Homo sapiens: one gene and its partners. The protein of the gene in region 2 interacts with the protein of the main gene of each other region in a biochemical or structural test. Each region holds a gene or a part of one and is shown on either strand. Other genes may lie near its edges.

Region 1 (3,745 bases), on a different chromosome or scaffold from region 2:
TGTCAGATTTTCCATTTTAAAATTCCAGAGAACTAATTACAAATTTCTAAAGATAGATCTTAGAAATATTTTATGTTTATGAAAAGGTCATTTTTAAAACTACTATATCTTATCACTGTTTTAATTAGTCTAGTAAGCAAGTCTCAGATCTATATTAAAATATGTTTGTAACACCGAATATCTGATTTAAGAATGTAAGAAAATACAATTAAACTGCTTATCTGGCCAGAGAGGATTTTGGAGACATGCCTCTACAACAACATCACACAACTTTTTACTTTGAAACCGCTCCAATACTTAAATTATAAGTAATAGCCTGGGAAATAGCTTGCGAAAACGACTCCGTGGTAGTTGTAAAGAGAAGTAGGTGTGAGACCACCCCTAATCCCTGAGGCCCCCCTCTCCTTACACACACCATGTCAACCAACAGTGATCTACCCTTTTTAATGTTGTTTATTCACTTCTAAACAATCAACTAAAGCTGCTCCTGAATAGTGAGAACCCAATCAAAAGTGGTATTTATCAGAAGCAATCACACCGGCTATTATCAGGCCAGAAATCTTCGGTACACCCTTCTAAAGTGGCAGCTTGAAAACTCAGCTCTGTTGGTCCTGCTGACTTCCAACACACCCCACGAACGCTCCAATGCAAACCCGATAGAAAGGAAAGCCAAGAACCTACTTCGTTTAATTCTACGGTGTGGTTAAATTATGCATTAAGGCCAATAAAATTTCCATCCTTACTCGTTTTCTTTAACAGAGTTCAAATGCTACTAGTTCAAATGCTCTAACTGGTTACTATTAAAACAAGGAAATTACAGATTTTTTTTTATTCGAAGGTATTCTATAGATTTCAGGAAAGAGTTTTCTTAACGTTTTATGTTTACTTACTCTTTTTGCAGCAACTACCAATTTCTATGGTAAATCGACCAGTTGGTGCCCAAAAGTTCACTAATTTAAGCACGGTCAAGGCAGGTATTTGCCATAAACTGCCTGGTTTAGGTAGGACGCGCCCGACTCCAAGTGATTGCAATCAGCCTCGGAATGAATTCCACGGGGATTCGGGCTTTGATTCACAATTTGTTACTCACATTCAGAGTGGTAAGAAGTCGCTGGACTCTAGTATAGTTTTTATCTTAAAAAAAAAAAAAGACTCAGGAGTGAGGCTCTTAACGCTTTACTCTCATTTGAAGACCTTCCGACAAAAAAGCAGCAACTCCTCAAGCCGAGTTTCTGGTTTCTTGAGCATCGACGCCGCGTCCCCGCAGCGCCCACAGGTCCCGCAAGCCCCCAGCCCGCCTCCTGCCCAAAACAAAGGACGTCACCCCCAGACCTCTGGACACAGAAGCCCCACACGCACGCACACGCACCCCTCCCTGTCACCTCCCTCCGAGAGCCCCTCAAACGCCTCAGAACCCGCGTCGCGGAAGCGCTCACCTCCCGCGGGCGGGCGGGTCCCGGGTACGCGGTGAAGGTGCAGCGGCGGCCGCCTCGGGCGACAGACGGGTGGTCACGGCCCCTCCCCAAGGCAGGGGCACCGCAGGAGGCCGGCGCGCCCCCTGCTCCCGCCCCCGGCAGGTCACGTGGGCCAGAGCTCGTAGCGCCCCTCGCTTTCCCGGAGCGTCCCTCCGCCACCTAGGGGTCCCGCCGCTCCGCCGGTCTCAACACCGCCCTCCTCTGCGCCTGCGCCCCGGCTCCAGGCGCTCTCATTCAAACCGACAACGCCCCGCGTCTTTCGGACCGGCCAATGGCGGGCGGCGCAGCGGGGCGGGGCGGGGCGCTGGTTGCCCCCCTCTTCGCAGTCCTGGGGAACCGTCTGCGTGTCAAGGTGACAGGGGGCTTGGGAGCTTGGTCCTCCTCTGCTCCGGGACGTGTCCTCAACCCTCAGACTGAAGTTTCTTTCCTGTCCTCTTCTTTCTTCTTCAGACACTAAAAAGTAGAGCAATAAATATTGTCTAGAGTTGGCCGGGCGCTGTGACGGACGGCTATAATCCCAGCACTTTGGGAGGCCGAGGCGGGCGGATCACCTGAGGTCGGGAGTTCGAGACCAGCCTGACCAACATGGAGAAACCCCGTCTCTACTAAAAATACAAAATTAGCTGGGAGTGGTGGCGCATGCCTTTAATCCCAGCTACTCAGGAGGCTGAGGCAGGAGAATCGCTTGAATCCGGGAGGCGGAGGTTGCCGTGAGTGGAGATCGCACCATTGCACTCCAGCCTGGGCAACAAGAGCGAAATTCCATCTCAAAAACAAAACAAAACAAACAAACAAAAAACATCGTACAGAGTTCAGATAGAGGCTGGCCTAGATCCCTTTAAAAAAGGAGCGCAAAACCAGCGCCGCCTTTTTGGAAGACTTGGTGCTGCGCTACAGAATGAGTGTCCCAAGCGGCAGATGCGGGATATAGAAGAAAAAGAGGCCTCTGTGGAAGGAACAGAGGGACCGTGTGAAAGTCTGAACAAGGCAGCCTCAGTTCTTGAGGCTGTGCCCAACCCTGGCGTTTCCAGCTGTTGGAAAAGCAAACTTCTGTTGACTACAGAATCGCTGGTTCCCAGGAAAATTGGGTGGCAGTTTTACTCAGTTTCACTCAGTTTCAGCGCCTACATTCTAAAGACACTGGGAAGAATAAGTTTTATTTCCATTCACCTCTCCTCCATGTCAAGGTGACCCCAAAATAGTAGTCACCTTATAGTTTGTTCTTCACAAAATACCGGCCGGGCGCGGTGGTTCACATCTGTAATACCAGCAACTTTGGGAGGCCGAGGCGGGGGGATCACCTGAGTTGGAGACCAGCCTGGTCAAAATGGTGAAACCCCGTCTCTACTAAAAATACAAAAATTAGCCGTGCCTGGTGGTGGGCGCCTGCAATCCCAGCTATTCGGGAGGCTGAGGCAGGAGAATTGCTTGAACCCAGGAGGCGGAGGTTGCAGTGAGCCGAGATCGCGCCACTGCACTCCAGCCTCGGCGACAGAGCGAGACTCCGTCTCAAACAACAACAAAAACCAAAATACCAAGACCAGAGTCTCTCTGGGGTAAAGCATCTGATGAATTTACTTAGATTATTTTTCAAATAGATATTTCTCTTCTGAAATGAAGTTTAAATGTTTCTACAGGGTAAAGGCTATGTTAAAGAAAACTCCGGGTTCAGTATCTCCGTGAATGATGGCCATAACCAGTGATCCAAGCAACATTTCCCATTAGGTGCATGTTATGGCAAATTGCTTAAAGGAACAGCTTTATCATCAAACTAGACCTGGGTTTGAGTTCCAATTCTGCTACTTACTTGCTGATTGACCTTGAATGAGTTATCTTCTTTAGTCTTAGTTTCCCCACCTGTAAAACATAATAAAGCCTCTTCTAATAAGGGTTGCTATGATGCTTCTGTGAGGTAAGGTTGTTAAGTGGTTGACATAGGGCCTGACACATAGAAACTGCTCCATACTTGATACCTATTATCGTTACAACCATCTTTAATATCAGGTTCTTGTAAATAACAATGGAATTGGTTGGCTGTACTGTTTCAGAGGTAGGTATTAATTCCTTCTTAATTATAAATTCTTTTAAAGTATGGATACTGTGAAAGCCACAAAGGAAATTTTATATATATAGAGAGAGAGACAGGACCTCCCTCTGTCACCCAGGCTGGAGATCACTGCACAGCAGCCTCAACCTCCCAGGGCCAAGTGATCCTCCGATCTCACCCCTCCCCTACACCCCAGTAGCTGGGACCACAGGAGCTTGACACT
Region 2 (3,745 bases):
AGGGAATGAGGGGGGCCGGGGAGCAGCACCTGGAGGAAGGAAGAGACGCCAGGGGCGGGGCTCAGAGGGCCTTTGTCTGGCGGGGTCTCTGCCCCTCCCTCCCGTTGCCATGGTTTCTGTGTGTGCCGAGTCTCTGCAGGCTGGGGGCTTCCCAGGGACGGGCTGGTGGGTGGGACACCTTCCCCAGTCGCCCCTGGCTGAGGCTGCTTTTCTGAAACAAAACGCTCCCCAGTGCTGCCCAGCCCCCACTTCCTTCCACAGTGTCTCCGGCTGCCGGGCGCCCCCTGGTGGTGGCGGGGCATGGGTCCCTAGGACTGCAGGGGACGTGGGGGTGCACGGGATCTGAGAACCACAGGCTGAGCTGGAGATGTGGCACCTTCCTGGGATAAGAGAAGGAGGTGGTGTCCGGGCTGCCTTTGTGGTGGGCTCAGGGCTACCCCCACCTGCCCCACCATATCCCACTGGGATAGGCTGGGGAGTTGTGGCAGTGTGGGCGGGCCTGGTGTTGTGGGTTTGAGCTGGGCCGCTGCCCAAGTCTACCCTGTGGTCCCAGCCGCTGCTGCTTCTGAGAATCTCTGCCCTCGGGCCTGCCACGTCAGCTGGCTGCTCTTCCTGGCCCCACGTGTTCCCACGGAGCCCACCAGTATGGGGGTTCTCTCCAGGGAGGTGTGCCTGGCTTTCTGGGTGTGTGCAGCCAGTGAGCAATGTCAGCAGTGAGGCTCCTGGGCAGGAAGGAGGCCCCAGCTGTGTAGGAGTGCCGGGTTATACTGAAGGGAAGTGACGACACAGCGGAAAGCCAACAGAGGAGCCAGTAGCTCTGACTCCTGTCCCAGGTTATGCTGAGTCCCAGCAGGGAACCACCACAGCTCTGAATCAGCCTGTTAGCCGCTGTCCATTGCTCTTCATCTGCTCTTTATCTGAAAATCTTCAGAAGCTTTCCTTCAAATGAGATGACCACAGCAGTCTTCTCTGCAGGTTGCAGGAAATGAGAGGTTTGGGGAAATCTGTACTCTTTCAAAGGGTAGATAAATAGTGATAACTTTTACCTGAATGCTCACATGTGCCCCACACTGTGAGAAGAGCTTTGCATTTAATCCTTACCCATCTCTCAGAAGGAGACAGCGTTGTCCCATTTCACAGATGAGGTGCCAGAGAAAGGGCAGGAAAGGAGCTGAAGCTCTTGAGGATCTCAGGAAGGATCAGAGTGGACATCAGGGCTGTGGCAAGTCTGGACCTCCTTCTGGGAGAGGATCTGAAAATGGGAGGCAGGCTGGCTGGCTGCTTGAGGCTTGACAGCTCTGCCCAGGGGAAACTGAAGCCAGAAAGGATAGTAGCAAGTCCCAGCCTCCCAGCAGATCAAAGCCTATTAAGGAGTTAGAGGGTCCAAGATGAACAGATGCTGTGACTTGAATGCTGGGGCCTGGACTAAGCATCAAGTGACAAGACCTGTGGGCCTGTCTCTCCTGCTGCAGGGGCCCTGCTGGTCTTGTTCACGCAGGTGGAGTGGTACTGTCTCCCTTCTCTCATCGGTTCCCTCCTCTGGGGCTCAGCACTCCCAAAGTGGAAGCAGATGTTCTAGTGCAGAGCAGCTGCCACCACCCAGCACATCACTATGATTACTGCCTACCTGCTGTGGGCCCTAACTGCGCCACAGGGCAAAGGCTGCAGAGGTTTCTTCCTTGGTGGGAAGAGGTGTGACTCAGTGGGAATGCCAAGGCCACCCCAGGGAACCTCTGCAGGCCTCTCTGGTCTTACCCAGCTGGGGACAGAGCACTTGGTGGGGCCCTCTGCGGGCAGGAGGGGCTGATTCATGCCACCTTCTATTGCCTCAGTTCCCCTACCCAGCATCTTTGCAGAAATCTGGACTCAGGCTGGACGCGGTGGCTCACGCCTGTAATCCCAGCACTTTGGGAGGCCAAAGCAGGTGGATCACTTGAGGTCAGGAGTTCGAGACCAGCCTGGCCAACATGGTGAAACCCTGTCTCTACTAAAAATACAAAAATTAGCCGGGCGTGGTGGCACATGCCTGTAGTCCCAGCTACTGGGGAGGCTGAGGCAGGAGAATTGCTTGAACCGGGAGGCAGAGGTTGAACCGGGAGGCAAAGGTTGCAGTGAGCCAAGATCATGCTATTGCACTCCAGCCTGAGCAACAGAGCGAGACTGTGTTTCAAAAAAAAAATCTGGACTCAGCCACCCCTCTGAGAGGCAGGTGCGAGGGGAGCTGGGTGTGTGCAAAACTCACAGATAAGCCTCTTGCCAGCTTATCTGGTAGGGGGCATCCCTCAGGTCCTGATGGAAAGAGGACCCAGCCAGAGATGGGGAGAGTGAAGCTACTACCCCACAGCTGCCAGGGCACTTAGCCTGTGGGCTGCCCGAGAGCTCTTCACCCCACCCATTCCACCCAGATGCCATCCTGGGGCTCCACCCACCTCTGCTCCTGTCCCCCTTCTCTGCTGGAGCTGCTCCTGGGCTGTGCCCCTGCCTCTGTCCCGTTGTTCCCCCTGCTTCCTGCCTGGCTGCCAGCACCACACCCTTGTCCTGCCACTCACTACTTCCCGCCTGAGTCACAGCTGCTGGAAAGACAAAGAGACCAGCCTGAGTCTAGGGATAGGGGCTCCATGACCTTGATTTGCTTACCTGTCAAGTGGAACTCTTTTTTCAGTGACCCCTGCTTGGGATAGAGAATGTTCTCTTAACATTTAAGAGGCCTTAGGAGGGGAAAATGAAACTTGAAGGGGACAGGGAAGTGGGCCCTCCCTGGCTGGGGCAGGGAGCAGATATCCTGGCTCCTAGTGTGACTGGCTCTGTGCTGCCTACCTCATGTCTACCAGGTCTAGCTGCTGCTAGGAAAATCAGATGCAAAGCAAGTTTGCACCCTCGTCCCTGGGCAGGGTCACGAAGCGGCCCACATCACCTACTAAGAGTGGGCAAAAGGCCAGACCCCCTCTTCACTCTCAGTGGCCAGATAGGGAAACTGATGCCTCAAGTGGGCAGGAGTCCCGAAGTCACACAAGATGGGGAAGCTTTCACCCTAGACCTCAGGTCCCCCATGCCCTGGGTAGCTTCCCTGCTGAGTCTGAGCTCGCCTGGCTCGGGACTGCATGGGGACCCATGACTTCGCATCCTTGGCCTCTGCTCCTGCAGTTCCCCCCATCCTGGCTGTGACTGGCTCCTGGTTCTTCCTCCTGCTCTGGAGGAGCCAGTGGGGAAGACAGTCAGGTAGCCACTGCTGCCCTCCCTGCCCCAGTGGGTGCTTTGAGCCCCAGGGGGATGGGCCTTAAGTGTTCAGGCATCGCTGTGAGGCTTTCCTGGGACCTTTCCCCATGTCCTCATTGGCAGGTGGAGGAGTGTTGGTATGCAGATCCTGGCTGCCCCTTTGCCATGCACAGCCCAATGGGGAGGGAGTGGTGCTGGTATATATCCCGGTACACACCCCAGTGAAGATACTGGGCCCGGCCCCTGTAGTGCCCAGGGGCTAAAGCAATAGAGGGGATTGCTGCCCCAGCCACAGCGCCCCAGCCTTCCCAGGGCCTGCACATTTGTATGTCCACAAGATTGTGCAACCATCACTGCTATCTAATTCCAGAACATAATCACCACCCTCAAAAATAAACTTCATACCCAACTAGCTGTCACTCCCCATCTCCCCAGATCCCCTCCCCTCATCCTGGAAAGCAGGCCTGGGACAGTCAGAAGCTCAGTGATTGCAGGCGCCTGATGGCATTTGTGAGGAGGGCTCAGGCCT
Region 3 (3,745 bases), on a different chromosome or scaffold from region 2:
AGCTTGAACTGAAGCCAAGGACAGAGTGCTGCCCCCTTCGGCATTTACTGATGTGCCCTCTTTAAATCATGATGTTATCTAACCCAAACCCAGACCCAGGACCTAGTCACAGCTCCAACCTACACTTCCTATTAATCTTAAAACAAAGCAAAACAAAACAAAAAGATATCAGCATTGTAGCCTCCAATCTGAGCCCATTTCCCTTCTCTGGCTACCATACCTCCTTCTCCTATATGATACCATTCACTACTTTGTTCAATTATCCAGTCTAGACCTGCATCTTGAGGCCACACCCAGCCTTCTCACTCCCCACACCCCTCTTTCCTCTCTCACTGCTCCTTCCTGGTCTCTTCTCATCTGGCCCCACCTCTAAGGAGTCCTCCTGCCTTCTGGGTTGCCCTGGAAAACAGACTATCCCCCCTCCTAGTGAAGGGAGTGGGTAGGGGTTTCAGCCCCACCCTCAGGAAGATGCGTCTTCCCTGTCCTCTGCTCTGTGGTACTTCCTCTCTGGCTGATTTAGCAAACAGCACCTAGACCTGGGGCCAGGCCTTTGGCAGTGGGACAGATCCAGGGATAGGCTACACCACCCTGCCCTGACCCTGGGATTGGCATCAGCTTCCAACCAGTTCCTGCCAAAGCTTGTAAGTAAGTTTCCTGGGAGCGGCCGTGGTTGTGGTGGTGGTGGGACAGTGTGCAGCCATGAAAGAAGGTGCAAAGGAATCTCCAAAGAAAGCCTGACCAGCGTAAAAAGTTGGGAGGCTTTGTCCTTGTCACTTGTCCACTAAACTCCTCCCCTCCCTGTTATTCCTGGTTGACCCTGGGCATCTCTGGGGACAGTAGGCAGGTGATTGGGAAAGTTAATGGGATTGAGGGGCTGAGGGCCTGGCAGGGGGCAAAAAGACTGGCCTTTCAAGGGGTGCAGCATTGGTAGGAACTCTGTTTGGTTCTGGGCTTTAGGGTCTCCTAAGGGGAGGAGACTGAAAAGGTCTGGAAATGCTGCTGCTGCTGTGGTCACTGTATATTTTGCAATTGGGTCTGTGGACAGGAAGGGGCCGCATGACCCAGTTAGGAAACTAGTCTTTGTACTCAACCAGATCCCTTTAAGTTGTCAGTCTGCAGCGATGGGGGCAGTATATTTCAGGGGGACCTCTGATGCTGCTGACCCTGGAGATAGACTAGAGTTCTCAGCCTAGGTGTGTCCATGGCGTCAGGAAACCCTTGGTCCTCTACTCTCATGCGTGTGTCCGCCCTCACTCTCCAGGTCCTCCCGACGGCCATGAACACTACATCTTCTGCAGCACCCCCCTCACTAGGTGTAGAGTTCATCTCTCTGCTGGCTATCATCCTGCTGTCAGTGGCGCTGGCTGTGGGGCTTCCCGGCAACAGCTTTGTGGTGTGGAGTATCCTGAAAAGGATGCAGAAGCGCTCTGTCACTGCCCTGATGGTGCTGAACCTGGCCCTGGCCGACCTGGCCGTATTGCTCACTGCTCCCTTTTTCCTTCACTTCCTGGCCCAAGGCACCTGGAGTTTTGGACTGGCTGGTTGCCGCCTGTGTCACTATGTCTGCGGAGTCAGCATGTACGCCAGCGTCCTGCTTATCACGGCCATGAGTCTAGACCGCTCACTGGCGGTGGCCCGCCCCTTTGTGTCCCAGAAGCTACGCACCAAGGCGATGGCCCGGCGGGTGCTGGCAGGCATCTGGGTGTTGTCCTTTCTGCTGGCCACACCCGTCCTCGCGTACCGCACAGTAGTGCCCTGGAAAACGAACATGAGCCTGTGCTTCCCGCGGTACCCCAGCGAAGGGCACCGGGCCTTCCATCTAATCTTCGAGGCTGTCACGGGCTTCCTGCTGCCCTTCCTGGCTGTGGTGGCCAGCTACTCGGACATAGGGCGTCGGCTACAGGCCCGGCGCTTCCGCCGCAGCCGCCGCACCGGCCGCCTGGTGGTGCTCATCATCCTGACCTTCGCCGCCTTCTGGCTGCCCTACCACGTGGTGAACCTGGCTGAGGCGGGCCGCGCGCTGGCCGGCCAGGCCGCCGGGTTAGGGCTCGTGGGGAAGCGGCTGAGCCTGGCCCGCAACGTGCTCATCGCACTCGCCTTCCTGAGCAGCAGCGTGAACCCCGTGCTGTACGCGTGCGCCGGCGGCGGCCTGCTGCGCTCGGCGGGCGTGGGCTTCGTCGCCAAGCTGCTGGAGGGCACGGGCTCCGAGGCGTCCAGCACGCGCCGCGGGGGCAGCCTGGGCCAGACCGCTAGGAGCGGCCCCGCCGCTCTGGAGCCCGGCCCTTCCGAGAGCCTCACTGCCTCCAGCCCTCTCAAGTTAAACGAACTGAACTAGGCCTGGTGGAAGGAGGCGCACTTTCCTCCTGGCAGAATGCTAGCTCTGAGCCAGTTCAGTACCTGGAGGAGGAGCAGGGGCGTGGAGGGCGTGGAGGGCGTGGGAGCGTGGGAGGCGGGAGTGGAGTGGAAGAAGAGGGAGAGGTGGAGCAAAGTGAGGGCCGAGTGAGAGCGTGCTCCAGCCTGGCTCCCACAGGCAGCTTTAACCATTAAAACTGAAGTCTGAAATTTGGTCAACCTTGTGAGTGGGGTACATGTGCTGTGGGTATCGGGGTGCTCGTGGGCGCCCTGGTGGGGCCCCTCTCGGTAGTTGAGAGTCACGTCCTTTAGTTCCCCATGATTTACAATTTTGGAAGGGACACAAAGAAACATAGACTTCCCCCATCCCAGATGATTCCGAGTACATAGTCTGCAGATAATACTTAGCAAAACGCAGTCTACAGACTCCTAAAGCAGCTTGTCTAGGAAGACCACCCATGTGGGCTTATCACTCCAGGTTCTGTGACCCGGGACCTTCTGAGAAAACAGCACTGCTGTGAAATATCTTCCTTGAAGCCTGTGATAAGTCTCCTTGTTAGAATGACTCCAACTTCCTGCCAATAATCTTTGTCCTCTCCATAGGAGATGTTCTAGGGGATGCCTTCCTTCCCTCCATTTCACAAAGAGGCCAGACTTGAGGACTAAGTCATTAGATCTTATCCCTTAGAATTTTGCATATCAGCATCTGCTAACCTCCACAACACACCCTGGCACAGGGTGGGGCTGAGGGCCCCAGGAAACAAAGATTCCCAAAAGTGAGAGGGATGAGTCATTATTTCCTAGAGATGACTGTTGTTTTAGAGAACCTTGGTCCAACTCTGTTCTGACAAGGTTTTAGGAAGATGGCAACAACAGTGGCAGCAGTGTACTTTTTGGATCTTTCTCATAAAAAAACAAAAGAGCAAGTAAGAGAGGGAAACCAAATATCCACATGCAACATCCGCAACAAATCTAGTATGTCAAGGTTTGACATACTCCCATGGACCCCAAAGTATGAGCCAGTGAGAATGAGTCATCAATATCTCAAGACCCATATACCAGCATCTGTGCAGAAGGATGCAGAAGGAAGCAAAGGGATGTTGGATGGACCTAAGAAGAGGAGATCCCCAAGCTGTCTACAGATCCTTACTGGAAGGTATGGTGCACCAATTTGAGAACAGCAGCTGAAACTGGGAGGGACCTAACGGAGTATTTCCCAGTCCTCTCGCCCATTCTGTATGGTGAGCACATAATAGGTACTTATTTAGTGTTTGTCGAATTAATAAAGTTCAAATGACATTTCCCTGGAGATTCTTCCGGTATTTTTGAGTAGGGGGCAGGAAAGGGCAAATTTTTGTTTTGAGTCATGTGGCTAAATTCTTTATGCTTCCAA

The links.
Region 1: the proteins of GNAI2 (region 2) and GPSM2 form a complex in vitro, tested with the Homo sapiens proteins (one study listed by BioGRID).
Region 3: the proteins of GNAI2 (region 2) and LTB4R form a complex in vitro, tested with the Homo sapiens proteins (one study listed by BioGRID).

Annotation. Positions count from the first base shown.
Region 1 is NC_000001.11:108,874,920-108,878,664, reverse strand, and holds the start of GPSM2 (G-protein-signaling modulator 2), read right to left. Parts: upstream 1,681-3,745; 5' UTR 1,437-1,680; intron 1,135-1,436; exon of another isoform or gene 891-1,134; intron 1-890. UniProt on the Homo sapiens protein: Plays an important role in mitotic spindle pole organization via its interaction with NUMA1. Required for cortical dynein-dynactin complex recruitment during metaphase. Plays a role in metaphase spindle orientation.
Region 2 is NC_000003.12:50,246,084-50,249,828, forward strand, and holds part of GNAI2 (guanine nucleotide-binding protein G(i) subunit alpha-2), read left to right. Parts: intron 1-826; exon of another isoform or gene 827-985; coding exon of another isoform or gene 986-992; intron 993-3,745. UniProt on the Homo sapiens protein: Guanine nucleotide-binding proteins (G proteins) are involved as modulators or transducers in various transmembrane signaling systems.
Region 3 is NC_000014.9:24,314,376-24,318,120, forward strand, and holds the end of LTB4R (leukotriene B4 receptor 1), read left to right. Parts: exon of another isoform or gene 1-645; intron 646-1,261; 5' UTR 1,262-1,276; coding exon 1,277-2,335; 3' UTR 2,336-3,661; downstream 3,662-3,745. UniProt on the Homo sapiens protein: Receptor for extracellular ATP > UTP and ADP. The activity of this receptor is mediated by G proteins which activate a phosphatidylinositol-calcium second messenger system.